7 linked regions of the Homo sapiens genome follow. The protein of the gene in region 3 interacts with the protein of the main gene of each other region in a biochemical or structural test. Each region holds a gene or a part of one and is shown on either strand. Other genes may lie near its edges. The genes, in order: HDAC4, LEMD3, SMAD3, PPM1A, KAT2B, HDAC5 and CDK8.

Region 1 (4,217 bases), on a different chromosome or scaffold from region 3:
GGCCAGTGCCGCCCTGCCAGGACCTTCTGTGACAATGAGAACATTCAGGGGACAGCCGTGGGCCGTGCACTGGATGTGGTGCACATGTGACTGAGAAACTGAATTCTAATTCTGACTTATTTATTTAACAGCTCCCCGTGGCTGGTGGCTCCTGACCTGGCCAGTACTGCTCTAGACAGCGTGGGGGCCTCCAGGCCTTCAAGGAGAGTCCGGTGGATACAGGAGGACAGACCGGAGGGGAGGAACCTGCACAGGAGGCTTCTTCCCACAAGAAGATGGGGCAATCCCAGCGGGTTCCAAATGAGGGCCCTGCTCATGGCGGGGCTGGGGGAGGGCCCCTGAGACACTGAGGACGGACAGGGGCTGGCTGGGGGAGTGAGAGAGCATGGGAGGTGGCAGGTTAAGAACAAGGCAATGACTACAACAATGATGCCAACACCTGCAGGGGCACATGAGTGCACAGCCCACTTAACCCTCATCAGGCTCACGGGGGCGGACCGCTTAGTATCCCCACTTCCTAGATGGGAAAACAAGGCACACAGAGCATAAGCGGCTTCCCAGGGTCATGGAGCAGGAGAAAGCTGGGACAGAGGCGGCTGTGTGGCTGCACTACGCTGCACACGTGACACTGGCTCCGAGGCTCCCTGCCAGGGGGTTTGCAGGATGAGCTGCTGGCAACCTGGGGAGGCTGTGCAGGAGAGAAGGGGCTTGCAGGGTTTTGGAGGTGGCGGCATAGGACTGGAGGGGCTTGCTGGGCACAGGCGTAAAGCAAGGCCAGAGCAAGCTGGGCAACCATGCATGGGCCCCCTGGTGGCACAGAGCCTGGGCAGGGCACGGTGGGCAGGTCCCCATGCCAACGAGCAAGCTGCACCTGGGAGGAAAAGAGGGATGAGCGCACACAGGGAAGAAGCAACGCCGAGTTCAGTGCGTTTCTCAGAGAGGTGAGACCCATGCACACTCGATATCCAGGTTCTATCAAAAAGGCTGTTTTCCAAAAACCTGATACACAAGATTACGCATGCTATTTAATCGTGCAGAATAAACTGATTTAGAGAAGGAAAGAAGATAAGTGACAAACATCTCTGACGAAGTGAATCCCAGGAATCCTGAAGATCAGGCACATTTTACGTTTTTAAAGACAGGCGAGAAACTCAGGTGTCCTTCACTACCCACACTCGTGCCAGCTGATCTAGAGCATCCAAGAGACTCAGACGCAACCTCAGATACATTCCTCCAGAGAGATCCGCGTGCCTGCCACTGTGGCCGCAGCTCAGAGAGGCACTGTGAGGGCTGCCCCCTCCCTCGTTACACCACGGGCTCCTCTGCTCTGGACAGGCAGGGACACGAATTCAAGCTTCTGGAGAAACAAACAGAAAGGGGCTCAGGCACAAAACAAAGATTGCGCCATTTGGCTTCTGGGCAAAGAAGGAATAAGAAGGAATCCTCTCTGTCTAAACAGAGACACATGGGCAGCACAAAACAAGAAAACACCAAAATCCACCAGACTAGTCAAGCCAGAGGCCCAAGCCCACCCAAGCCAGCCCCTAGCCCCACGCATCCTGCAGCGCAGCCTCCTACAACACGCCAAGCCCCTGAGTTTTCACCAAGTTCACTGCCAGAGTTTCACAGGTGCAGCTCTGAGGGTATTTCAGCTTTCAATTGGCAACAACAGGTTTCCAGGAAGCCAAACACAAAGCTATGAAGATGTACAACGATGACCCGCACGGCAAGGGGGTAGGTAGCTGCTCCCTCATTTATTTATTTTTGAGACGGAGTCTCGCTCTGTTGCCCAGGCTGGAGTGCAGTGCCACCATCTCGGGTCACTATAACCTCTGCCTTCCAATTTCAAGCAATTCTCCTGCCTCAGCCTCCCAAGTAGCTGGGATTACAGGTGTGCGCCACCACGCCCAGCTAATTTTTGTATTTTTAGTAGAGACGGGGTTTCACCATGTTAGTCAGGCTGGTCTTGAACTCCTGACCTCACGTGATCCGCCTGCCTCGGCCTCCCAAACTGCTGGGATTACAGGTGTCAGTCACCGTGTCCGGCCGGTGTGCCCTCATTTCTGAAGTGACACTTTCACATTGCTGTTGCTATGTAATTTCATAAGGACGTTCCCATTTTCCTCTAAATTGTATTTTTCTAAATGTAACCACTCCCCCAGACAGTGCACATTTGTAAAAGTTCGCTAACACAAACTGACCACAAGAGTCGGTTCTGGGCTTCCAGCGCTGGCTCAGCTTGGTCCAGACAGAAACCCAAATCGCAAGAGCCGGTGGCCTCTCCCAAAAGGTGAGAAAGGGGAAGTGACTTCTGTTTCCACTCCATCTACCTGACTCTGGGAGTGAGGCATGGATTTTCACTGCAGTCACGGTGGCTACATCACGTGATGGGGATGTGTGTTTGGGAACTGTGGGGGTGGGACAGGCGTGCATTCCTGTCTCCTCCAAAGGCAGGCGAAGGCGGGGCACCATCCAGAGCGTGGGCAGCCTCAGAGCCTGGCTGCACCCAGGCCCATTTGTGCTCACCTGTGACGAGGGGTGCTTGTGCCGGCGGCTGCTCCAGTAAGACCATGTGCTGCAGAAGAGGGCTGTGCGCTGCCCCTCCGTCCCGCTCCAAGGGCGAGGTGCTCAGGTAGGGAGTGAGGTGGGTGCCGGGGAAAAGGGAGAGCCTCTGCTGGAGGGCGGGAAGGGTGAGTCTCTCGGCGTCCTGCTGGCCCGCCGTGCCCTGGAAAGCACAGCCAGGATGCTCGGGTGGAAGGACCCATCACCACCACCCCACACCACACGGACCCACGGGGGCTGACTTACCGCAGAGGGGCCGGTGGCAGGCAGGCCCAGCGTGATGTTGGGCAAGGATGGCGATGTGTAGAGGGGAAGTGGAGCGGCCGAGCCTTCTCGTGCCACAAGTCTGTGCGCCAAACTCGTCTGGGGACAGAACACACGATGACCATCACAGTCTGTCACGGCCAAACATCAGCAATATACACCAAGAAAAACAACGATGAAAACACCTGCACTGAATTCTGATATATGAGCGTAAACGTACATGTAACAAATGAGACAGCAATGAGAGCATGAGATTTCAACACGTGCCACAACATGAAAGCACAATTCACCACTCCAGTTTCCTCCTCCCGATACGAGTTCTTCTTCTGTCACCTTGTCCAGCATCATCTCGTTGATTTCTATTCAGTTTGATTATTTACCACAGAACAGTTAGAAGGAAATCTAGGCTAATATAGTTTACAATGCCGTTTTGCAGTTTCTAGGATAATATAGTTTACAATGCTTTTTTGTAGTTGGCAATGTCTTTCCAGACATAACATCAAAGGCAGAAAACAAAAAGGAAATAACATTTAACTGTACATTTAAAAATAACTATAAGGGTATGATTGGATTGTTTGTTACACAAAGGATAAGCACCGGAGAGGATGGACATCCCACACTTCGCATGACGTGATTATTACAAATTGCATGCCTGTATCAAAACATCTCATGTACCCCACAAATATATACATTATGTACCCACAAAAATTAAAAATAAAGAGAAAATCATAAAACAACTGCCTCTACGAAAGGTGGGCAATGATGACAATACTGGCCATGTATGAGGCAGACGAGGGTCAGCACAGAGAGCTTGCAAATCAAACAACTAACAGTGAGAAAAGCACGCGGTGAGGACCAGTGACGGCAGAGCTCAGGAAGGGGAAGGCGCTCAGGAAAACACATCATGGTCATCAAAAAAGGTATTCTGAAACCCAACAAATTGGCAAACACTTTTGAAACATGGTAATACCATCTTGGCCTAGAGGAACGGCGAACACTGTTGGGTGAATCACAAATCAGTTAGTGGCACCCTTTCTGCAGGACAATTTGGCAATCTATGTCAAAGGCCTTCAAAATCTGTCTAACCTTTGATGCTGGAGCTCCACTCTTGGGATGTAACGTTAAGAAATAAGGAGATGGCCTGATGCCCATGAAGCCTCCGCTGCAGGGCCGAGCACCCAGCAGGCATGGCAGAGCTATGCGGCTTCCCCGACACCTTGGTGTTAACAGAACGGAGGGGCATTGCACACCGGGATGCTCTGGGGGTTGGGAACGATCTAGCTGATTACTTGGACACTTGTTTATGATACATTAAGTTAGAAAAACAGGTTATAGATCATGTACCTTTTAAAGAATGGGCTTGGATAAAGCAAACACAAGCCAGGAGTAAA
Region 2 (4,217 bases), on a different chromosome or scaffold from region 3:
CATTAACCACAACTTTTAAATGCATTTCAGTCCAAACAAGAACTTATCTTCCTCTTATATTCCCAACTAAACTGTAAGCTGGTATAGGAACTATGTCACACTGATGCCTATCCACAGATCTTGGCACACAAGACGCCCTCCAGAAATATGTATTATTCCTAAAAGGGAAAAAATTCAGCATATTCATTGTGCTAACTTAACTTACACATCTATTCTTAAAGCTAATCATTTAAGGGTTCAAATAAGTTTGAATTTATTAATGAATTAAAGTATGTGCATTTTCAGAGTATAACTAATCCTATCTTTAGCAAGGGGTGTGCATGCCTTAAAAACTGTTATAACATAACCAGGTGTGGTAGTATGCATCTGTTGTCCCAATTATTCGGGAAGCAGAGGCGAGAAGACAGCTTGACTCCATAAATTTGAAGCTGCAGTGAGCTGTGATCACCCTACTTCACTCCAGCCTGAGTGACAGAAAAGATCCTGTCTCAAAAAAATCTTAAAAAACAAAAATTGTTATAACAGACCAACAGGGAAATCAGGTACAAGTTTCCACCTATGATCTGGTTTCTACAAAGGGATGTGCTCATATAAATCTTTGGAAAACTACATTTATCTTTTCTTTTAATTGTTGATAAGAAGCGAATTCAGGGCTTTTTCTTTAGACTATAAGTGGTTATTAGAAATAAATTATCCTCATATTGAACTCCAATTGTCATGTTTTCCCTTCCCTGTGTCTTTCAAGTAGTTAAAAAGCTTGTTAACATGAAAGTAGAATAATTAAAGTAAAATCCTTGCCAAATGTTTCTAAAATAAAAGCAGCCATGTTCTCATTTCAGTTTTGTTCAAGTAATCATTTTAATGTCAGTAGCTATAAAAAGGGGAGAAGTACCTATCAGATGAACAAGTCTTGAAAGTTTATTAGTGCATCCTCAGAGATTTAGATCCCATAGATTTAGAGCAGAGGTCTGCAAATTACAGCCCATGGGTCAAATCTGGCCTACTCTGGTTTTTATAAATGAAGTTTTACTGGAATACAGCCAAGCTCATTCACTTATGTAGTATTTATGGCTGCTTTCATGGTATAACATAACTGAGTGGTTGTGACAGAGGCAAACTAACCTACAAAGCCTAAAATATCCACTATCTGACCCTTCACAGAAAAAAAGCTTGTTGACCCTTACTCAAGGGGAAGGAATCTGTATCTTTAAAAGCACATCAGATTATGCTGATTTAGCTGGCCATGAACCATACTTGATAAAACAATGCTACAGAGATAGCTGTAGAAGCTTGTGTTAGCAATATCCCTAGCTAGCATAACTAGCATATACTTAACCTATCTCTGGGTGCTACAGCATACCAAATAAATGTCATTAGCTTGAAGTGTGTGAATGACAATCAAAGCAAAGAAGGCTTTTAGCGATATAATACAGAATTAAAAGCTTAAAAAATTGACCAGAATTAAGAACCCAATGTACAAAACAAAGAGAGATCAGAGGATGGGAAACTGTCAGGATCCTAAATACCTCCATTCAACCAGAGAAGTTCCATATTTACCTATAGGCTGCTACCAATAATCTGGTTTACACAAAAGTTCTGCTACATAGAAAAGTTTGAAAACTGCATTTTTCTTTTCTTATGCCTGCTTACAAGAATCCAAGTCTCTTCTTTCAGATTATATGTTTAAAAAAAAAAAAGAACTAAAAAAAGGTAATAGATAAGCTGCTACTGCAGTTTACATGTGCTAAACTTGATACTAATTAATCTATAATAAATTATTCCCATTTCGGACAAGTTGACTACCTTAGAGCTCTCAAAGAATTACTAAGAGCAGACTATGAGGAAAATGCAATTAATCCGGAGAGAAAATTACAGGAGAATAAATTTACTTTATCAAACAGAATGATACCTATACAACCAACAAAAGAAAATCTGCATTTGTATATTTAATCCAAGATTTTAGTTAATTCACTGCTTACCTAATTCCTCTGATACTTAAGCTTTCCAGATTTTTTGTTACCACTGATGCAATAAAGAAATTTGATCAACTTTATAACTATATTATATATATATATTACCTCTAATACAGATGGCAGGCAGGAAAAAAGCCTTCATTAAATACATATGTAAAAATCAAAAATCACTCTGTATAGGTAATGAAAACTTCTAAAGAAAAATATTTCACAAATATAACACTGGACTTGGAAAAATATTTTCTACTAATAACATGCTACATACATTTTTCAAAACATTTTTAGCAACTATAAAAGTTAAAACAATTACCTGCAAGCTGTGCCAATCGATCATGAAGCTTATATAATGTGTTCATCATAAGAGTTTTTTCACTTTCCTAAAATTAAGAGAAGTTATTATGAAATACCCAATTACAAGAAAAAAAACACCAAATAATTCTTAATCAAAAAAAAAAAAACAGTAAATTTAAAATCACAGAAGCCACATAATCTGAAAGACAAATTCACATTTAAGTAATGGGCACCATATTTTTAAGAAACCTTAATCTAAGACTCTAAATTATTACTCTAAATATTTCACTTTCTGGAGAACGATTTAAAAATTGGCATAAGGTTAGTGCTAAAAAAAAGGTCTCACAGACAATAAACTCCATCAATCACCAAAGCAATGTTCCCAATCCCCCTCTGCACAGTGTATTCTTATGTAAACTGTTCATATGAGACTGTTTTCTTCATCAAGGCTGCCCTTCATGTCTTGTTTTAATCTAACTCAACCACATAAAACTAAGGGAATGAGTACTGGCACGTTGACTGATACTCAGTCCTCTCCTAGGCTCCCAAGGTGCCCCTGTATAAACTTATGAACTGTTAAAATGAAACAAACATTAAATAAACATCTACTAGGAGTTAAGAACTGTTCTCTCAGCAAAGCGAGAGACCCAGTGAACAAGATGGTTCCTGTACTCAAGGGCAAAAAACATATTAAATGTTATACAACTGCAGAGTAATACAGAAGATTCTCTTCCCTCCTTCTTCTGTAAATATAGAAGGAGGGAAGGAGGGAACAGAATTTATGGAACAGAATATTTGAGTTTGATTTAAAAGGAAAAACTAACAGATCAGCATCCTAGGCAATGGGAAAGACCCTGAGCAAGGGCATGAAGGCATGAAAGCATTGGTTATATTTCTTACATAACCAGTAGCCCTTGTTTGATTCTGCAAACTACTAGAAAAGTTGTTTAGTATTAACTACCAGACAGCCTTGGATAGCAAGACAGAGAGTTTGACTTCATTCTGAAAATTTAGCAGGAGAGTAAAACAGACTTGTGCATCAGGAATACTACCCGGGCCAGAATGTACAATGTATAGGCTGGCTCGGAAGCAGAAATAATTGTATGAAAAGAGTCCAGATAGAGAATTATTGCAATGGTACAGCCTAAGTACCTGCCAAGTAGTCTAAAGCAACAAGACCTCCAATTTAAGAGCAATTACGATCAGGAGGGATCGACATAAATGATGGAGGGTAGGGTGGGGAGGGGGTAATAGCTTATTGCACTACCTAAAATAAGTCCATGATTTATCAGGGGGCTCTGTCTTTATTACTTTCTTTCTTCCTGAAGTTTCCAACAAAACAGATTTACTGGATGAACAGATCATGGAGCAAATTGAAGCAAGATATAAAAGACTGGAAAAGTAACATTTATATGTCTAATAACATGCAACCTCATCCATTTATTTTGTGGTGTATGTGCAGGGACAGAAGAGAACATGTTTGCACACTATGGGTGGCATGCTTTTGTCATTGCAGCTTTAATCGGTTATACTAAGAGGAAAACTCATCAAAAGTGCCAAGATCCTACCACCAGAATACCTGGTTTTATGTCAGACGGTTGACTGAGATAAGTTACTTATTCATTCAGTTTACTACTTGCCTTCCTACGTATATATATATATTTTTGCCTCAATTTTATCTTAATCAGATTCTGAATCAAGCCAGTCCTTATCTTCACATAAGATCAAAAATTCAAACTGCAAAATTAGACATCAAAAAGTAACAGTAGGCTGGGTGTGGTGGCTCATGCCTGTAATCTCAGCACTTTGGGAGGCCGAGGAGGGTGGAACATGAGCTGAGCGTGGTGGCATGCACCTGTAGTCCCAGCTACTTGGGAGGCTGAGGCAGGAGAATCACTTGAACCCAGGAGGTGGAGGTTGCAGTGAGCGGAGGTCATGCCACTGTACTCCAGC
Region 3 (3,500 bases):
CTGCCTGCCTGGATAGGACTGAATACAAAAGTAGATTTTTTTTTTCATCTTTTTTTTCAGTTAGGGAAACCCAGTTGCTTGGGTGGATCCAGACAAAATGGATTTTCATCCTTGGATTTTGTGCCCACGCCTCTGGGTCACCTTGTGTCCCTTGGCAACAGCTGCTGCTGTTTTGGTCGTGGGCAGAAAACTAAAGGCCACGTCTTGGGGAGGTGGCTGGTTTGGCCCTGTGCTGGTGATATCAATGTGTCTGCTAAGCCCCATAGATTGCAGTGTTGCTTGTCAAATTGTCTGCTTTCACCACAACTGCCTTTTAGTTTGGAAAGTAGAGAAAGGAAAATGTTTAACTTAGTCATTCCCCCTGTGTGTGGGGGGTTGGTCACTGGGTGCTTAAAAACACTCTGCAAGATCTGGACTCCGGGGTTTAAGGAGCCCTCAGTCTAAGGAGATTAAGCCAAGTGTGTTTTGGCTAATATATAATCATGAGCAGCAACAGCAACATTTGGCAATTAGAGCTGTATACTAGGGACTTCCAGACCACAGGCTTGCTTCTCTGTGACACCAGCTCTGACTTGTTTCAATTATCAGGGGAGCTGGCGTGATACACACTTATCGACATAAAGAAGGTGAAAGAGATTGGTGCCAAGGAAGTGGTAAGAGCTTCATTTAGATACACCAACAAAGGGGCTGTCAGGATACTCTGAGGTCTGGCAGGATTGGCAGAATTTACACAAGTTTTATAACAGCCTCTCATGCCTCACCTGCTTGAGTACCTGAGTAAAGCTGCAGGTATCTTCCTTGCCAGTTTATAAGAATGGAATCAAAGCATTTGCCGCTGAATGAGAGTTGGTGTGTGAGCGTTATATGAGGAATAAGGAGCTCGGCACACTTAAAACTTAGTTTTCTGGTAGACACTGGTAGCTTGTACTTCCACCAGGGAATCCATGCCTTGGCCTCGTTGTTGGGAGCTAGACCAAGCTTAAAGCATTGCTTGTTTGGAAGGGAATTTGGGCTTTCTTGTGTCAGAGCACCCAGTCCAGTGGAAAATTGGAGAATTGAAGCAAACACTAGGTCTGACACACAGCATCTACTCCCTCCCTGTGAATCTGATGTTTTTTTTTTGGAGACAGAGTCTTGCCTTGTTGCCCAGGCTGGAGCGCAGTGGCATGATCTTAGCTCACTGCAACCTCTGCCTCCCGGTTCAAGCGATTCTTGTGCCTCAGCCTCCCGAGTAGCTGGGATTACAGGCGCCCGCCACCACGCCCAGCTAATTTTTGTATTTTTAGTAGAGACGGGGTTTCACCATGTTGGTCAGGCTGGTGTTGAACTCCTGACCTTGTGATCTGCCCGCCTTGGCCTGCCAAAGTGCTGGGATTACAGGCGTGAGCCACCGCGCCTCACCGAATCTGATCTTTTACTGTAGCCTCCTCTTATTATCTCCTTGACTTTTGCCAGGGTACTCTCACTTTGAGAAAGGAAAAAGATCCTAGTCTTTAACATGCCTTTTCCAGATTTCTGGGGATAGACCTATTACTAAGGCTGTAGAGGCCTCCCTTTTCTCTTGGCTGCACTTCAGAGCACCATGCCCGTGTGGCCCATTGGAAGCAAGCCCCCTTCCAGCTGCTAGGGAGGTGGTCCATTATCTCTTTGCTCTTGTTAAGTTTGATTAGGGGAGTTCCACGTAGGGCCTGAGAAGAGGAGGTGCCTGCAGGACAATAGGTAGCTGATGAGGGATCTGACTCAGCTGCAGCTGAACCTAGGCGCCACTTGACGTTCCCTGGGAACATTTAGAACCTTGGAACATGCTGCTTGCACCTGGGAGTGGAATGTTTGCAGACAGCCCCTCTGTTGTTACAGGGCTGGATTTTGTTGATTTATTGATATTTATTGGACCCTCCCATGTCTGAGTCAATTTTTTAGGTACCAGAGGAGGATGCAGAGACACGTTTGAGAAGCTCCCAGCCTGTGAGAAGCTTACACATCAGTAAGGGAAACATGAATAGGGCATTATTTGAGTATCTAACTGCTATCTCTTTCTCATTCCCAGCTACCAGTAGAAATATGAGATCTAGTATGGATGATTTTTGATGGGGGCGGGCGTTGATGTGCCTTTTAAATATTGTAGAATTCACTATGTTAGGAAATAAAATAATGACAGGCATCTGTTTTTTTCTGAAAAAAACACAAAATTCAGGTCCTGTACCTGCCATTTTACCACCTGCAAGGATTTGGGAATCCATTTAAGTTTCACAGCTTTTATATCTGCACCTGTCAAGTCAGGATGAGATAAGTTCTGTGGAAGTGTTTTGTGAACCAGAGAATTTGACAGGTATGTTACGTTTATACTTCATTCTGCATCATTCATTCATTATTGAATTATTCAGTCCTTCGTTGAGAACATACTACAATGACCACAGCAGGGTCCCTGTACTCAAAGAGCTCCCTGTCTAGAGCGGGAGACAGACTTGCCCAAAGGTATGAGGCATGAGCTGCAGCTGAGGAATGTGCTAAGTGCCCAGCAATGTGGAAACACAGTTAATTCTGTGGGAGGAGGTGTAGAGAGGAGGAGAACCCATGAGAGGTGGAAAACTAAGAAGGGGACAAGGGTTATCCAAAGGAAGCTTTTTGGACTGCAGTATGATGTTGGGAACTTTTTGGTACATGGGGATAGTTCCCTATAAGAATGAGGACGTCTTTATCCTCTTTTACTAAACTGAGTGCTGCTATAAATATGTTACCTTGTAACTGGCACTGAACAGCTAGTGACTTGGGTGCTATATTTTACTCCACTGTAAAGCATTTTCTCTTTGAAGTAAAAAGTAAGTTAGTACTGCAAACTGAAATTCAGGTTTCCTTGGTGGGAACAGGGACTTTAGATGTATCAGCTCAGAATATGACAGGGAGTGTTAATAAAAAGTGGACAACTTGGCTGGGCACGGTGGCTCACACCTGTAATCCCAAGCACTTTGGGAGGCCGAGGCAGGCGGATCACGAGGTCAGGAGATCACAACCATTCTGGCTAACACGGTGAAACCCTGTCTCTACTAAAAATACAAAAAAATTAGCCGAGCTTGGTGGCAGGCGCCTGTAGTCCCAGCTACTCGGGAGGCTGAGGCAAGAGAATGGCGTGAACCCAGGAGGCGGAGCTTGCAGTGAGCCGAGATCGCGCCACTGCACTCCAGCCTGGGCGACAGAGCGAGACTCTGTCTCAAAATAAATAAATAAATAAATGAAAAGTGGACAACTTGCAGATGGTTGTTTTGAAATTCAAAGCTTCGGTGTGACCTAGCTTCTCATTTCTCTAGTTAACACTTGCTGAGAATAAATCCTAGACGCCTGAGTTTCTGAATGAACATAGGTGCTTTTAGTGGTATATTTTTTAAAAAGTCTTTGCAAGGGTGAAGTTTTAAATGACAATTTTAATAACAGAAAAATATGAATACAGTCGCATTTAATTCTGATGAGAAATGCAAGAAGTTGATGAAATTGAAAGAATTTGT
Region 4 (4,217 bases), on a different chromosome or scaffold from region 3:
TGCTTTATGGATAGTAGACATTCAGATATTTGGTAAGTATTAAGCAAAATCTACCTGGAGTGAAAGTGATTGTTGTAGGAGGAGGTAGTAGAAGTAGTTACAAGCTTTATCGTAGCAGACGTTTCTGACTCTCTTCCTGAATGTTATTTTTTCTGAACCTGGATATTTAAGTGTGAAGATTATACAAATCTGAAGTGTGGCAGTGTTCTTATATTGATGTAGAAGACTAGGTTGACTGATCCTGGACCTACAAGCTTCATTTTAACTTCCTACATTTTGGCTTTGAGGGTTAACAGGACATTTATAATCACATATCTCTTTTCAGAGTATTTTACATTTGCAAATATTATCATGAACTTTGTGTCCTTTTAACCAGAGAGGAATTGTGGAATCACAGGAATTAGATGATGTGTTAAAGAAGAGAGATAACTATCAGCTGATTTAATTTGAACCCAACAAGTATCTAATAATATGCATACTCTGTGTTCAAATAAACCTCTAAGCTAGACTTTCAAGCTTATCAAAATGCTAGACTATTTTCAGTGTTTAGAAAATACCAGCCAGGTGTGGTGGCTTATGCCTGTAATCCCAGCACTTTGGGAGGCTGAGGCAGGTGAATCACAAGGTCAGGAGATGGAGACCATCCTGGCCAACATGGTGAAACTTTGTCTCTACTAAAATACAAAAAATTAGCCAGGCGTGGTGGCACGGGCATGGTGGCCACCCGCCTGTAGTCCCAGCTACCCAGGAGGCTGAGCAGGGGAATTGCTTGAACCCGGGAGGCACAGGTTGCAGTGAGCCAAGATTGCATCACTGCATTCTAGCCTGGCAACAGAGCAAGACATCGTCTAAAAAAAAAGAAGAAGAAAAAAGAAAATACATAGTAAAATTTATTGGCTTTTTAAATGGATAATTTCATATAGTCAGTCAGTGCCGGCTTAGATCCATTTGTTAGAGAACAATGCTAATGAGACCTCTTGATACTTTGTGTTCCTCTTATGTTTTCCTAGCCTTGACGTTAGCAACTAACAATGATAACTAACATTATTGAGCTCTTATGTGCCAGGGACTATTACAATAGATTTTCAATTATTATCTCATTAAATCTTCATAGCAGCCCTATGAGCTAGATACTGTTACTACCTATATCTTAACAGATGAGGAAATTTGAAACAGAGCAGTTATTTGCCAAGAGTTTCAGAGCTATTAACAGAAGCCTAATACATGTTCTTGGACTTTGCAGAAATAATTTGTTGATCCATGCGGTTTCATTGCTACTGCGGAAAGTAAGTCTCTTGGCCATTGTGATGGGTCAAAATCTTTGTACATGAAGGGTATGACTGTTGTTCCATTGTATCCAGAGAGTGAATCTTGTGATTGAGTTGGGATTTGAGGTGGCAGTGTATACTAAGTTTGAAAAGTATATTATCATATGTTAGCTCCCTTTAGAAATTTTCCCCAAGAAGAGCTATTACATTTTTTAATATTAAAAAAGCATAAGATATGGCCATAATACAATTAGTTCCACAAGCCATACACACTTTTTTCTTATGGCTTAAAATTTTATTCATGTTTACTACTTTGCAACCCACTGATATAAATTATTTCACAGATCCTTTATTCAAATGAAATTCTCAGTGAGTCTGAGAAGATAGTCTTAAACACAAGCTAGCTGAGTTTACAATAGAGATTATACTATAAATGGTAACTTCAATGTTTATTGAAAATAAATTCCTTAAAAACAGGTCTTGTTTCATTCATTTAAAGAGATTATCAATATATGACTGTTAAATTTTTATAGTCTCCCTGTTCATTTTCTGATGAACACATGACAGAAAATTGAATGTGAGCTGGAAATACAGCAGACTATGAGAAAGCATGGGTCATGTATAATCACTTTAAATTTAGGCTGGTGTTTTGTATTCATCTATAATATGACCACCTCAGGGAGGGATGTAAGTAAACATTCTTTTTTTAGTTATACTTTAGGTGGCTTAATTATTTTAAAGAATATGTTATTCAAGAATTGTCTATTGTACTGTTTTAAAGAATAAGAATATAATTCATTACCAACTTTGAATGTCTTGGATTCTTAGTACTACCTTTTTCTTTATCATGACTAGTAGGATCACATCATAATTTGGTACTGTGTGTATAAAGATGAAGTGTGCTTACCTTTATTACCAAAATTCAGAAATGAAAATGTGAATGATAAAAGATAAGGGATGGCTATATATTTTTTTGTTTTTGTTTTTCCAAACAGAATCTCATAACTTACCAGGCTTTAGAAAAACATCTTTGCAGTATGCCATCATACCTCAGAATGTTAAGTAGATAGGAAATAAAATTTTCACTTTTTGTAAAGCAGTAGGGTATTATCCTTTCTGACAGCCTGTAAGACTGTTTTGGTTGCCAAGGGGCCAATCTTAGAAGTGGCAGTTTTTGTTTTGTGACCAACCCACAGCTTACCCTTTGTTAGTCCATATCTGTCATCTTCATTTTCTCTTTCTGCGTAAATGCTTCTTGATACAGTAAGCAGGTGTTTCAACTAGTCAGCCATCTAGTGTGATCTTTTCTGGTTTGCTACAGTCAGTAAAATAAGTAGCTCTATAAGTGTAAATAGTATTACTTGTTTTATGTAGTAAAACTCCAAGATTAAGTTAGAGATATTTTTGGCTAGACTACATTGAATGCATTGACAATGGATTTCCCAGCTCCCAGAAATTCGTTTGTGTCTGAATTACTTTATACTTGGCTTATTGTGTAGAGAAAACTTTAGAAAAAGTTCATCCATCCATGAATGTTGAATGAATGAGCAGATTAATAAATAAATAGCTCAGGGAAAGAAAATGTGTGGGCTTTTAGTCATAACTATGTTTTTTCTCTTTTGTTCCCTTCCTTATGTGCCATTTTTCAATAATGGGAGTGTGTATCTAATGATGTTGATAAACTTTTTAAAGTCATTGATGAACAGTAATCTGAAAATCAAGTTTTGATTAAGCCGTAGATTTCTTTTAGGGTCCAATATTTTCTTTTTAGAAATCCACTATGATATTTTTGTAGGGATAAAAGACAACCATGTATTCTATAGATGGAAAATGGTAGGATACAGTTTGTTGGCCGGCCAACTTCTCTGAAAATACTTTTTCCTGCATAGAAGATAATCAGTGTTGACAAGGGAGAAGCCAAGGTATAATGGCTGTTATTCATCTGTCTCATGTATTCGTCAAGTGTCATGTGTTAAATATGAACAAAAAAGACATAATCTCTTTCCTCCTGGATCTTAAAATCTAAAGTGAGAGATAATTCACCAGATAAATGCTGCGATAAGGGAAATAGAGGATTCTATGAGCTTATGACTAAGGATAGATCTGTTTCCTCAGATGTGGAACTAAGAAGTGGCAGTAGTTGAGAAGTTCATTTTGGGCCATGCGATTTGAGGTGTGGCTATTCAAGTATAGGAGGTAGGTGGTTACACATTTTTTAAGCTATTAAATAGAACTTTCACTTGAAAAGGTTTTTTTCTCTCTTTCCTCAGCATCTATCTCCCTACATACACAAAAAAATTGCATGTCACAATTCATGAACTCAGTGAGTGACTCTATTTTGAAAAATGTTAGATTATATCAACTGAAGTCTGTTAGAGGCAAATGCTTTTGGTCATTTTTTTCAGCAGGGACATTTCATATGTGTAAAATATTTAGAATCCCCATGTATTTATATATAAATGAATCTTTTACCATCTTAAATGTTTAATAAGTTATATTTTTCCTTTCTTTCAACTTAAGTATACAAGGTTATCAGCAAACATTTGTAGATGCTCTATGTGAGGTGTTTTGTTTATTAGTTTTAAGGAAGAGAAAAAAGGATGGATTGGATCAGGAAGTCAGTTATTGTTTTCTGGGTTAGTTTGAGTCCAAATCCTCAAATATGCGGCGATTTATAAGTAGCAAACTAGGAATTTAATCCACTTCAGTTTTGGATAACTTGGATAAGACACTTTCTGTCTATAGATCTGTCTATAGATAACTTGGATAAGACAAGTTATCCAAAACTGATAAATCTGAATTAGTTAACAGATGAGGCAAATTGAGATTGTAAATGCTAAAAGATTATTAGAAAACTTTATAAACTAAATAGTTCTATGCCATGTCTTTTTAGTATTTTGCTTGTACTATAATTGTAGTGAAAATAGGTCAGTATCTAATTTTTATAGT
Region 5 (4,217 bases), on a different chromosome or scaffold from region 3:
GCATTACCGCCTGAGCTCTGCCTCCTGTCAGATCAGTGGTGGCACTAGACTCTCATAGGAGTGCAAACCCCATTGTGAACTATGCGTGCAAGGGATCTAGGTTGCATGCTCCTTATGAGAATCTAACTAATGCCTGATGATCTGAGCTGGAACAGTTTCATCCCAAAATCATAGCCCTAATCTGACCCGTGGAAAAATTGTCTTCCGTGAAACCAGTCCCTGGTGCCAAAAAGGTTGGAGACCATTGGAGTGAGAGGACTATTCCCAGAAAGTCCTTAACTCCACTTTGAACCTTCTCTGGACATGGCACAGAGAGATCTTCCCAAGCTCTGCAGGCCTTAGTGAGAAGCCCCACATTCTGCTCTTCTTCTAAGACCTTGGGTTTACCCTTACCTTGACTTGCTCATTTGAGGTTACAGCACAGAAGACAATCTCTGTGAATCCTTGAGATGGGAACATACGGAAACAGATACCACCAATAACACGGCCATCTTTAATTAAAGCAAGGGTTTTGTGTTTCCTGAAAGAATAAGATTATGTCAAAGTTTTACCTATCCTAGTTATATAAATATACTTTTTGGGGTGTTCCTTATTAACCAACTAAGAAAGAGGGACATGTCCTAAGTTTCTATAGAAACTTCCTTCATGTAGCCCCTATCTCGCTAGACCATCCTTTTATCTGAACTTTTTAGAGCTAGGTCGCCTGCACAAGATGTCATCAGCACTCCCATCAGAACAAAATACCAGTCACCTAAGAAGTGCCTGAGGTTTACAAATAGAGAACAGAGTATGTGCAGAGGTGCTCTGGAACTGGCACAGCCAGTGCCAAGGAGGGGTCAGGGAGAGCAGGAAGTCATGGACAAACATGGTATGTGTCTCTGAAGAGTTAAGTCTTACTCCAAAATATTACAGAAACATTATGAAAAAGAATTTAAAATTTACATATACAATTTGCAAAATTCCGCATTATGGAATCCTTCCCTCTGTCTAAAGCATCACTCTGAATTGTCACAGGCATGGATCACAGTCCCCATAGGCTACTGGGCTATGTATGTTAAAATAAATTCAATTAGAGAAGTTTAGTTCTTTAGGGTTTCGTGGGTTTTTTTTTTTTTTTTTTTGAAATGGAGTTTCGCTCTGTTGCCCAGGCTGGAGTGCAATGGCACGGTCTCGGCTCACCACAACCTCCGCCTCCTGGGTTCAAGCAATTCTCCTGCCTCAGCCTCCCAAGTAGCCGTGATTACAGGCATGTGTCACCAGGCCTGGCTAATTTTGTATTTTTAGTAGAGACGGGGTTTCTCCATGTTGGTCAGGCTGGTCACAAACTCTCAACCTCAGGTGATCCTCCCACCTCAGCCTCCCAAAATGCTGGGATTACAGGCATGAGCCACCATGCCCGGCCTAGTTTTTTGTTTTTTTTTTTTAAGCAATGGATTTTCAAAGTTAACCTGTCTTATATCCCAATAATTGCCCACAGACCTGGGCAATAATGGCACCTAGTTAAGATACCAAAACCAATATTTTGATTATGAAGAAAGCAGAACATCTTAGTGTTACATTCTCTCACTGCTATAAAGAATGAAGCACAGGAGAGTCATCAGCAATGTAAAATATAAAGTTTCATCATCATTAACAAGAAAATTTGTAAATTGTTGAAAATTACTCTTAGCACTTTCAGACATGAAAATCAGCTTGGTGAAGCTCTGTATCCACAGCAAGACAGGTGCAGTAGTATTCGGTGGATGACTATGGCTGACTTTCACTATCTAAGCAGTTCCTCTTTCATTTAAAAAGGAAATAAGGAAGAAGGAACAGAAAGTACCACTTACGGGTCAAAGACGAGCCGTGTGATGTATTCTTTTGGCATTCGGGGCAGCTGGTGGGAGAAAACGTTCTGTAGGCCAACCAGCCACATCAGGATCTTCTTGTTTGGTTTCTGGTTGAGGGAATTGCCAACCACGTGAAATTCAATTACACCCCTGCGCTCTTCCAACCTTGCCGCCTCATCCCTGGCCGAGTGTGCTGACAGAAAATTGGTCTGAGATGCAAGAGACAGGAAAAAATTACACAGAGCTATTCTCTCAAGACAGTGGGGATGGGACACATCCAAGCTTCTCATCTTTGTTCTAATAAGATACACATTTGTGGATTTTCAGAGTCCTAAATACACATGTGTGCACACATACACACAGAGACACATACACATACAAGTTATGAAGACAAGACAGAAAAGGCAGGTAAAGCATTTTGAGAAATTGGAGTATTATATGTGTACACGGATGATATTCAGTGTAGATTAGGGGCCAGCAAAGTTTTCTGTGAAGGGCCAGATAGAAAATATTTTAGACGTTGTGAGCCATAAGGTGTTTGTCACAACTACTCCTTCTTCTGCTATAATGCAAAAGCATCCACAGACAATATGTTAAAGAATGGGTGCAGTACTGTTCCAATAAAACTTTATTTAAAAATACAGTAAGCAGACAAAATGTGGCCTGTGGGTTATAGTTTGCCAACCTCTGGCTTCAAGGAATCCTCTCCAGCTGAGCTTTAAGGACCCTTGAGATGACAGATTCAAATTCTCATTACAGGCCCAATAGTAGCACTCATGTATATATTCTTTTTTTTTTTTTTTTTTTCTGAGACGGAGTCTCGCTCTTTCGCCCAGGCCAGACTGCAGTGGCGCTATCTCAGCTCACTGCAAGCTCCGCCTCCCGGGTTCATGCCATTCTCCTGCCTCAGCCTCTGGAGCCTGCCACGGCGCCCAGCTAATTTTTTGTATTTTTTAGTAGAGACGGGGTTTCACCGTGTTAGCCAAGATGGTCTCGATCTCCTGACCTCGTGATCTGCCCGCCTCGGCCTCCCAAAGTGCTGGGATTACAGGCTGAGCCACCGCGCCCGGCCTCATGTATATATTCTTAACACCTCTTTTTAAAGAACAGTTTTCTTTCCAGAGAATATCTGTTGACCTACACTCAACCATAGCTGGAAGCACAACCATGTGCCAGCACTTATGCTCCCCATCTTATTTAATCTGCCTAGTGGTTTGCAAGTAGATGCTCCACAAACAGCTCTTCAAGGAAGGAAGGCCCTAACTGGTGACACTTCATCTCATTAGTCCAGAACTGGCTATCCAGGTAACCAGGTGCCATGCTAGTCAACTTCAAGCTACCAACATATGGAACAACCAGCTCACAAAACTCCTGAAAATTTAACAATTTTCTTGTGCATTCCAGTACAAGCCAGCTCTAGTACACTACTAAATATTAATATATCCAAAATATTTTCAAACATGTGACTGCATCCTGATGTAGTTTGAATGTGTGACCCCTCCAAATCTCATGCTGAAATGCAATCTCCAATGTTGGAGGTGGGGCCTAGTGGGAAGTGTTGGATCATCAGGGCAGACCCCTCATGAATGGCCTAGCACCATCCCCTTGTTGATGAATGAGTTATTGCTCAGTTAGTTCATATGAGATTTGGTGGTTTAAAGGGGTCTGGCTCCTCCTCCTCACTCTCTTGTTCCCTCTCTCACCATGTGATGTGCCTGCTCCCACTTCACCCTGCACCATGAGTATAAGTTCCCTGAGGCCTCCCCAGAAGCTGAGCAGATGCTGATGCCATTCTTGTACAGTCTGTGGAACTGTGAGCCAATTAAAGCTCTTTTTTAAAAAAATAAATTACCCAGTCTCAGGTATTTCTTTGTAGCAATGCAATAGACTAGTACAAATCCCCATTTTATAGCTGAAAAAAACCTAAACTCAGCTAATCTGTAATGTTACTAAATCCCTAAAAAACTATAGTCTTAAGCCCTCACAGACTGGACATCTAGGAGGAAATGGAAAGATCAATTTTAGGAAGAGATTTTTCTATTACAACATTCTGGTTCTCTGAAGTATCCTCAATGTCATAAAATAAATATTTAAAGAAACATGACAAATTGAAAATTAACACTGTAATATAATCTCCAAGCCATTTCTTCATTTCCTGGAAGCTGTCAGAAATGTCTTAAGACAGGTATGTCTTAAGAAATGTCATTGCCTTGCATGCCCTCAGATGCAAGGCAATGAGATGACAGCAGCATTTTTACCAAAAATGCCTTACTTGAATCTAATCCTTAGTAAACAATCAACAAATCCAAAAAGAGGGACCTTATACAAAACTAGCGACCAAGACTCTTCACCAATGGCAGTGCTGCAAAAGACCAAAACAAGGCTGGG
Region 6 (4,217 bases), on a different chromosome or scaffold from region 3:
GACTGAGCCAGTAAAGCCATTCTCAGCGATGGTGCTGTGGGAGCTGTTGGGAGAGCTGGGGCCGGAGCCGGGTGCGCTGTTACACACGGACGACGCTATAGGAGAAGTGGCTGTCACCTGGGCCTGCTGTGAACTACCCCCGACCCCTGATTCCCAGACCCTCAGAACAGGTACATGAGAGCAGCCCTTACCCCCAGGCCCGGCACCTGTGATCTCAACAGCTCTCTTCTTAAAGGTGCTAATAACAGTCCCATCCTTGCGACGCAGGAGGGGACTGCTTCTCCGCTCAGCCACCTTCTGTTTTAGCCTTGAACGCACTTTCAAGTTGGGTTCAGAGGCTGGAGAGAAGGTAACCGAGGTTCAGATACGCGCACAGCAGCACACATCTGCAGCTGAGCCCACTGGGGTCAGGGCTGACACTGCCACAAGCCCACCTCTGCCTCCCAGGAGCCATATTCTGGGAGGCCAGGTGGGGGACTCACTCACCTGTTTTGCGGAGGGGGAAGTCGTCTCGACTGTCGTAGGGCCCAGGCAAAGGCAGTTTGTAGGAGGGAGGCGTCCCAGGGGGGCCGCTCTGGGGAGGGGAACTCTGGTCCAAAGAAGCATGGTGGGCTCCCCTGGGGTGGGGGGGGGGTGGGGATGGAAGCAGATCTAGGTTATCACCCAGTCTGCTGGACCTGCCACCTGGCAATCTACATTTATGAAAAATCGTTTGTATATAGGAAGAGGACGTGGATCTTGGGGAAGGAATGAGGAAATAAACCAGGGATGGGGGTCCTGTCTCTAAGGAGAGATTGCAGGGCCCGTATATGGGCACGGGGAAGAAGCCCCTTGCCATCCTATAGCCAGGCAGCCCCTGAGCGGCTCACCTATGCCCACCCATGCCTGCCCAGGGCCATTACCAGCATTTGGGGTGCTGTGGGAGGGAATGGTTGAGGCCGCCTGGTGTGGGCTCCTTTGACTTCGACAAGAGGAATTCCTGGAGCCTCAGCTTTACCTCAGTGCTGGCAATGGCACCTGCAGGACAGGGCACAACTGACCTGGCTGCTTGGGGCCAGACCCCCCATGGCAGGGGCAGGCATCACGGGCGGGGCCCTACGAGGTCCCAGGAGGCCCTGCCTTACTCTCTTTGCTCTTCTCCTTGTTCCGCAGGATGAGCAGCTGCTGCTCCAGCCGCTGCTTCTCCAGCTCTTCCTGCCGCTGCTGCTCCCGCTGCCGCTGCTGCTCCAGCTCCTGCTGCCGCTTGGCTGCCAGCATCTCCTGCTGCTGCTTGGCTGCCAGCATCTCCTGCTGCTGCTGCAGGGGCATGGGAACGGAGGCACAAGTGAGCCAGGCCCGGGCGGGGATCGGAGGTCTGGGCGGCCCCCCGCACCCCCCTCGCTCACCTTGAGGTGCTTCTGCAGCTGGACCTCATGCTGCCTTGTCAGGTGGTCATGCTGTTTCTGGAACTCAGCGAACAGGAGCTGCTTCTGCAGCTGCTGCTGCTGCTTGAGCGCCAGGAGCTCCTGCTGCAGTTGCTGCTCCCGCAGTGTGGGGTCCACAGAGCCCACCAGAGCCCCCCGTAGCTCCACAGGGCTGGGGCTGCCTCCACCCCCACCCCCCATGGAACTGGGCATGGCTCTTGGCAGCACCGGCTTCACCTCCACTGTGGGCAGAAGAGACAGGAAGGAGTTAGTGGGCCCAGCCCCAGACTCCAGTCATGCCTGAGGCCCAAAGGCTACCACGCAGGATTCTAGGAGACCCAAAGAGAACAGAGACAGAGAGGAAGTCAAATCCCTCTGCTCCATGGATGCAACATTTTACCTTAATTAAATGAGGCTGAAGCCATGAACTTCAATAGGAAAATACAGGCTGAGCACGGTGGCTCACACCTGTAATCTCAGGTTAGTTTGGGAGGCTGAGGCAGGCAGATCACCTGAGGCCAGGAGTTTGAGACCAGCCTGGTCAACATGATGAAACCCCCTCACTACTAAAAATACAAAAATTATTTGGGCGTGATGGTGCACACCTGTAATCCCAGCCACTCAGATGGCTGAGGCATGGGAATCTCTTGAACCCCGGGAGGCGGAGGTTGCAGTGAGCCAAGATCATGCAACTGCACTCTAGCCTGGGTGACAGAGCAAGACTGTCTCCAGAAAAAAAAAAAACAAAAAACAAAAAGGGGGAGGCCGGGCGCGGTGGCTCTTGCCTGTAATCCCAGCACTTTGGGAGGCTGAGGCGGGTAGATCACGAGGTCAGGAGATCAAGACCATCCTGACTAACATGGTGAAATCCTGTCTCTACTAAAAACAAAAAAAATTAGCTGGGCGTGGTGGCACACGCCTGTAGTCCCAGCTACTCAGGAGGCTGAGGCAGGAGAATCGCTTGAACCCTGGAGGTGGAGGTTGCAGTGAGCCAAGATCGCACCACTGCACTCCAGCCTGGGCGACAGAGCGAGCCTCCATCTCAAAAAAATAAAGAAAATGTGCATAAGCATGAAGCTGTACCTGACAGATTGTGACTACTCGACGCATTTTATGTATCTGTGTGTGTGTGTGTATATATATGTGTGTACGTATGTGTGTGTATATATATATATACACACACACATACATATGTGTGTGTATTTATCTCTCTACCTATATATATATCAGAGACAAGGTCTTGCTCTGTCGCCCAGGCTGGAATGCAATGGCATGATCGTGGCTCATGACAGCCTCGACCTCAAGCAACCCTCCCACCTCAGCTTCCCAAGTAGCAGGGATTACAGGAGCATGCCAATGCACCAGGCTAATTTTTAATTTTTTAGTAGAGACAGGGTCTCACTATGTTGCCCAGGCTGAATTAAACTCCTAGGCTCAAGCGATCCTCCCACCTCAGCCTCCCAAAGTGCTGGGATTATAGGCGTGAGCCACTGCCCAGCCTTCAACACATAATATTATCATTGATAGTCAACATCTCTGGGCATTTTACAATGACTCATTTAAATATCACAGTTACCCTATGACTTAGATGCTATTATTACCCCATTTTACTGATGAGGAAACTGAGGTTTAGAGAAGTTTAAGTAGCAACCAGACACAGCTAGGTGATCCAATAACTAGAATATGAGTCCAAATCCTAAGCTTTTAACCACTGTGCCCGCTCCCATTTCTCAACACCGTGCCCCATGCAAAGCCTCATACTAGAAGAGAAACTGAGGCACAGAGGTTGGTTCTAGGACTGACAGTGCCCTTGGTAACCCCAGGAGAGGCTGGTGGAGACCTTCTGGATATCTCTACCCTCTGTCCCCTTCTGGGGCCTCATCCCTATCTGGGGCAGACTGGGCAGGAGGGAGAGGCTGTGGGAATGGGGGTGGGGTGGGAACAGGAGGCCTCGGGGAAAGGGGGTGCAGGGCTGCACCAAGCCAGGGACAGGAGGGGGCTGGGAGTCAAGACTCGCTTCCTTTGCTGGATTATCTCCTTTCAACAGTTTTATTGTAATTACCCTGAAAATGCCGCTATATATAGAGTGAGCCAAACAGCAGCTGTGCCTGGGGGGAGGGGGAATAAGAGGATGGGCGGGCAGGCAGCAGGGAGGAGGTGGGAGGAGGAGACAGGAAAGGAAAGGGAATCAGACAGGAAGAAGGGTAACAGCAGGGGGAGGGCAGGAGCTTCGGCAGAGATCTCAGAACTCTGGTCTTACGGAGAACCGGCTGGGGAGAGGAAGGCTGCTGGGGAGGGGAAGGCAGTGGAGGGCCTGCTGGGTTCCAAGACCTTGGGTCCAGTCCCCACATGGACAATGGGCCGAGTGGCTCAGGGAGTGCACGAAGTTCCAATGGGCTTATGGGAGGGCTAGGTCTCCACTTCTTTGTACCTACACACAGTTCTCAGGTCACTGCATGTCACTCCTCACCACTGCCCTGTGGTTGCCAGGACAACTGGGCAAACACCACACCAGCAGGGAGCCCCAAGCCCAGCCCAAGCCCCACAAAGTCTCCAGCCAGGAAGGGGAAGGCAGGATACCACTGCCTGGGAAGGCGGAAGTGAGAGAGGCAGGCCAACCCATTCCTGTTTCTCTTCTACTTCTTTCTCCAAAGAAAGCCCTCACTCTCCTCGCTACAGCCCAGGGAGGTCACGAGGGGCTGGGAAGACTCCTGTGGCAAAGTGGCCCACTCCAGCCCAGGCCTGAGAAAAAAGGACCCCGAAATCCTTCTGGCTACCAGTATCTTCTGCCTTCATGAGCTGGCCTCTCTCCAG
Region 7 (4,217 bases), on a different chromosome or scaffold from region 3:
ATTAGAGTATTACAAGTGACTTTTTTTACCAATGTTTTAAAATGACAAATCCTACTGTCATTTTCTTTATATTCCAGGGCTACATAACAAATGCAAAATATACATACCATGAAATCTCACCAACGCCTAAGTGATTTTTAAAAATAACTATTTTTATTGCGACTGCCTTGTTACCCTCTGCTGCCTAACCCCTACCAATTCACTTCAACATTCCAATTAAAATAGATAAAGGAGTGGGTTTTAGTAGGCTAAATTATCATTTGTTTTTTATGAAAATGAACATTAAAAATATTTATTTGGCTTAAATATTATTAAGATGATGATAAAGCTAATGAACTAGTTATATGCACTGTACAATATTACCCACAATAAAATTTGCTGAAGTATAATCATTGTACCTACATGTAAAATTAAATATTACAAACTAGCAGCTAGAAATCACATTGAGTGAAATATTATACTATCTTCTATGCTCTACTGTGGTTTATCACAAATCTTGTTTATAAACCAGCCTGGAAAATGCCTTAAGTTTAAATTATATGACTTTATTTCTTATGAGGCTCAGCATAGTGAGTGTTCAATTTAATACTGGCCACGCTGATTTAACAGGGTTGATCTGATTAGATTTCTTTTAAAATAGAAGAACAGAAGAACCAAAGATTTAAAAAAAAAGAAGAAATTAATAACCAGCATGAACTTTGGAAAGAGTTTCATAAAAGAGAGAAAATTTCATGTATACATAATAAAAAGCATAGCCATGCTAATTTAGTAAATATAGATTAGTATGCAAATCAATACAATGTTTAAAGACATTATTAAATATCATTTAAAAAGCAGTTCACAGGAGTATAGTAATTCTTAATGAATTAACACAAGGTAATGTTAGATGTTTAGTTTACTTGTTTCTTAAACTATAATCTGTATTAACAGATGTTCTCTATACAGATTGATAAGAATGTCAATTTTGTTACTATGTTTCAAAATTACTTTGGCTATCCTATTATAGATTTTCTATATATATATCTCAAAGTTTTATCTGCAAGGTAACGTTTCAGATTTTTAAAAAATATATAAATGTTATATTTAATAAAAGAGCAAATTTTATAGTTACCTTAGAGTTCCTCAAATACCAATTTAAAAAATAATCTGCTTAGTAAACTGCAAAATACTGAGGCTGGTGTTTGTATTTCAGCTACTCAGACAAGATAAAATTAAGTTCTTATTTTACAGTAATTTTTTTCAATATAGCATCATTTTCTGCAATGCATTAGATAAACTAATAAACTGGCTGGGCTCAGTGGCTCAGGCCTGTAATCTCAGCACTTTGGGAGGCCGAGGTGGGCAGATCACCTGACATCAGGAGTTAAGAGACCAGCCTGGCCAACATGGTGAAACCCTGTCTCTACTAAAAATACAAAAATTAGCCGGGCTGGAGTGCAACAGTGCAAACAGGACCCACTGCAGCCTCGACTTCCTGAGCTTCAGCCCCATGAACAGCTGGGACCACAGCATGTGCCACTGAGCCCAGCTAATTTTTTTTATTTTTTGCAGAGACAGGGTCTTGCCATGTGACCCAGGCTTGTCTCAAACACTTTGGCTCAAGTGATCTTCCTGTCTTGGCCTCCCAAAGTGTTGGGACTACAGGTGTGACCCACTACACTTGGCCTAAAACTATTCTTATCATAGGTCAGAAAACAAAGAACTAAAAGTCCCAAGAGATATTAAAATTTATTTTCACACGAATCTTATTTTGTAATAGAGCTCTCATCCACAAAAAATTCCTCCAATGCAAGATTATGCCCAATTCAAGTAAGTACAATACAGTCATGCATCACTTAATGAAGGGATACATTCTGAAAAATGTGTCGTTAGGCAATTTTGCAGTTGTGTAAACATCACAGACTGTACTTACACAAACCTAGATGATAGACTCTACTACAAACCTAGGCTATATGTTATAGCCTCCTGCTCCTAGGCTACAAACCTGTACATGTTACTGTACTGAATAAGGAAGGCAATTGTGACACAATAGTAAATAAGTGTGTTATCTAAACATATGTAAACATAGAAAAGGTACAGTAACAATATGGTACTATAATCTTAGGAGACCACTATCATATATGCAGTCCCTAGTTGACAATAACATTATATGGCGCATGACTATACTGTATTGAACTACTGCCACTGAAAATAAGAATTAGGATATTAAATTCAATTGTGAATAGTTAATAATTAATAACAGTTTCCTACATTTGTATATTTATAAAACTTTTCAAATACAAGATTGTTCCTCAGAAAAACGTTGTTAAAAAAGGCAAGAAAGTATTACATTTTACAGATGGGGTAAACTACAGCTTCAAAGCCATTAAAAGACTTGCTTAATGCTATACGACAAATAATGGTAGAACTATTAGATCTCTCCAAAGATAGCATATTCGTCCTCCTACATGAGGATACCACCTTCTCATTTTATGTTCCCTTTATACAACGAAATAAAAGGAAATATGCTACTTTTCTATTTTAGAGCAAAATTTTATATATATTAGTTACTTTTTATTTTATCAAAAAACTATATGAAGCAATATTGAATAGTTGTTGAACACTCTTTAGATTCTATTGTTTTCTTTAGTATCTGTTAAAAGATCAAAGTGACAATATTGAAAAGTAATAATACAAAGTCAAATACTCTAGCCTTCGTCATGCCACCAACCACACTCTATGAGGTTACTTTTATTTTAAAAACATAAGTCTCATAATAAGCAGAACACCTAACTGTTTTTAGTTACTCTTAACAATCCCTGACTGTTTGCTCATGTCTGCCAGCAATTCACCTTACCCAGAGGTCATGTTCAGCATAGTCAAACAGAAGCCACACCTTCCTATCAGCATGAGACAGAAACACCTTTTGAAGAGAAATGACGTTTGGATGCTTAAGCTCTCGAAGTAACTGCAAAACAAAGGAGATGCATTAACTATTTCTGTCACAAAAATAATGTAAAAAACCCCACACCATTTGTAATTCAAAGGCAATACAAACCCACAGGTAAACAATCTTAAACATCTAATAAGCACCCACACAATTCTGAGACGGATACTTCAGTAACAAATGAGAAGATATCTGTGAGGAAAAGACACTGAACAGGTATTATCTGAGTAAATCTATTTTGTTGTTGTTTGGTTGGTTATTTTAATTTTTTGATTGTGGTAAAATATATCTAACATAAAAAGACCATTTTAATCATTTTTAAGTGTACAATTCAGTGGCATCCTATAAGTATATTCACAATGTTCTGCGATCACCACCACTATCCATTTTAGAATTTTTTTTGTCATCCCAAACAGAAACTCTGAATCCATTAAACCAGCGGTTCCCAACCTTTTTGGCATCAGAAACCATTTTTGAGGAAGACAAATTTTCCACGGATAATGGGGTGGAGGTGCAGGGCGGGGGCTGGGGGAAGGGGCAGATGGTGGATGGTTTCAAGATGAAACCGTTTCACCTCAGATCATTCATTAGGCATTAGATTCTCATAAGGAGCATGCAACCTAGATCCTTCACATGCGCAGTTCACAATAGTGTTCAAGCTCCTATGAGAATCTAATGCCACTGCTAATCTGACAGGAGGCAGAGCTCAGGTGGTAATGCTCGCTTGCCTGTGGCTCACCTCCTGCTGTACGGCCCAATTCCTAACGTACCGGTGCTGACGCAGGGACCCCTGCGTTACACAATAATCCCACCGCCTTTTTCCCCAAGGCTCTGGTAACCTCTACTCTACTATCTGTCCCTAAGAATCTTCCTAATCTAGATATTTCATGTAAGTGGAACCATACAATATGTATCCTTTCATGCCAGGCTTATTTCACTTAGCCTATTTCATTCTTTATGGATAAATATACTCCACTCTATGCATATCTATATATATATCTATATAGATATATATATAGATATCACATTTTGTTTATCCATTCATCTGTTGATGTTCATGGATTGTTTTCACCTCTGGTTATTGTGATTAATGCTGCTATGAACAGTGGTATACACTATCTGATGAAAGTCCCTGCTTTCAATGCTTTGAGCATAAACCTAAAAGTGGAAATCCTGGATCAAATGATTGCTCTGTGTTTAACTTTCTGAGAAACCACCAAACTTGCAGCTGTACCATTTTACATTCCCATCTGCAATGTATGAAGGTTCCAATTTCTTCATATCCTCACCA

Evidence for each region.
Region 1: the proteins of SMAD3 (region 3) and HDAC4 form a complex in vitro, tested with the Homo sapiens proteins (one study listed by BioGRID).
Region 2: the proteins of SMAD3 (region 3) and LEMD3 form a complex in vitro, tested with the Homo sapiens proteins (one study listed by BioGRID).
Region 4: the proteins of SMAD3 (region 3) and PPM1A form a complex in vitro, tested with the Homo sapiens proteins (one study listed by IntAct).
Region 5: the proteins of SMAD3 (region 3) and KAT2B form a complex in vitro, tested with the Homo sapiens proteins (one study listed by BioGRID).
Region 6: the proteins of SMAD3 (region 3) and HDAC5 form a complex in vitro, tested with the Homo sapiens proteins (one study listed by BioGRID).
Region 7: of the proteins of SMAD3 (region 3) and CDK8, one has a biochemical effect on the other in vitro, tested with the Homo sapiens proteins (one study listed by BioGRID).

What each region holds. Positions count from the first base shown.
Region 1 is NC_000002.12:239,131,719-239,135,935, forward strand, and holds part of HDAC4 (histone deacetylase 4), read right to left. Parts: intron 2,926-4,217; coding exon 2,809-2,925; intron 2,726-2,808; coding exon 2,527-2,725; intron 2,521-2,526; exon of another isoform or gene 1-2,520. UniProt on the Homo sapiens protein: Responsible for the deacetylation of lysine residues on the N-terminal part of the core histones (H2A, H2B, H3 and H4).
Region 2 is NC_000012.12:65,214,110-65,218,326, reverse strand, and holds part of LEMD3 (inner nuclear membrane protein Man1), read right to left. Parts: intron 2,351-4,217; coding exon 2,284-2,350; intron 1-2,283.
Region 3 is NC_000015.10:67,068,602-67,072,101, forward strand, and holds part of SMAD3 (mothers against decapentaplegic homolog 3), read left to right. Parts: intron 1-3,500. UniProt on the Homo sapiens protein: Receptor-regulated SMAD (R-SMAD) that is an intracellular signal transducer and transcriptional modulator activated by TGF-beta (transforming growth factor) and activin type 1 receptor kinases.
Region 4 is NC_000014.9:60,255,581-60,259,797, forward strand, and holds part of PPM1A (protein phosphatase 1A), read left to right. Parts: intron 1-1,243; exon of another isoform or gene 1,244-1,286; intron 1,287-3,383; exon of another isoform or gene 3,384-4,217. UniProt on the Homo sapiens protein: Enzyme with a broad specificity. Negatively regulates TGF-beta signaling through dephosphorylating SMAD2 and SMAD3, resulting in their dissociation from SMAD4, nuclear export of the SMADs and termination of the TGF-beta-mediated signaling.
Region 5 is NC_000003.12:20,123,726-20,127,942, reverse strand, and holds part of KAT2B (histone acetyltransferase KAT2B), read right to left. Parts: intron 2,039-4,217; coding exon 1,830-2,038; intron 521-1,829; coding exon 394-520; intron 1-393. UniProt on the Homo sapiens protein: Functions as a histone acetyltransferase (HAT) to promote transcriptional activation. Has significant histone acetyltransferase activity with core histones (H3 and H4), and also with nucleosome core particles.
Region 6 is NC_000017.11:44,092,190-44,096,406, forward strand, and holds part of HDAC5 (histone deacetylase 5), read right to left. Parts: intron 1,646-4,217; coding exon 1,386-1,645; intron 1,297-1,385; coding exon 1,125-1,296; intron 1,018-1,124; coding exon 903-1,017; intron 618-902; coding exon 487-617; intron 339-486; coding exon 192-338; intron 96-191; coding exon 1-95. UniProt on the Homo sapiens protein: Responsible for the deacetylation of lysine residues on the N-terminal part of the core histones (H2A, H2B, H3 and H4).
Region 7 is NC_000013.11:26,347,802-26,352,018, reverse strand, and holds part of CDK8 (cyclin-dependent kinase 8), read right to left. Parts: intron 2,948-4,217; coding exon 2,837-2,947; intron 1-2,836.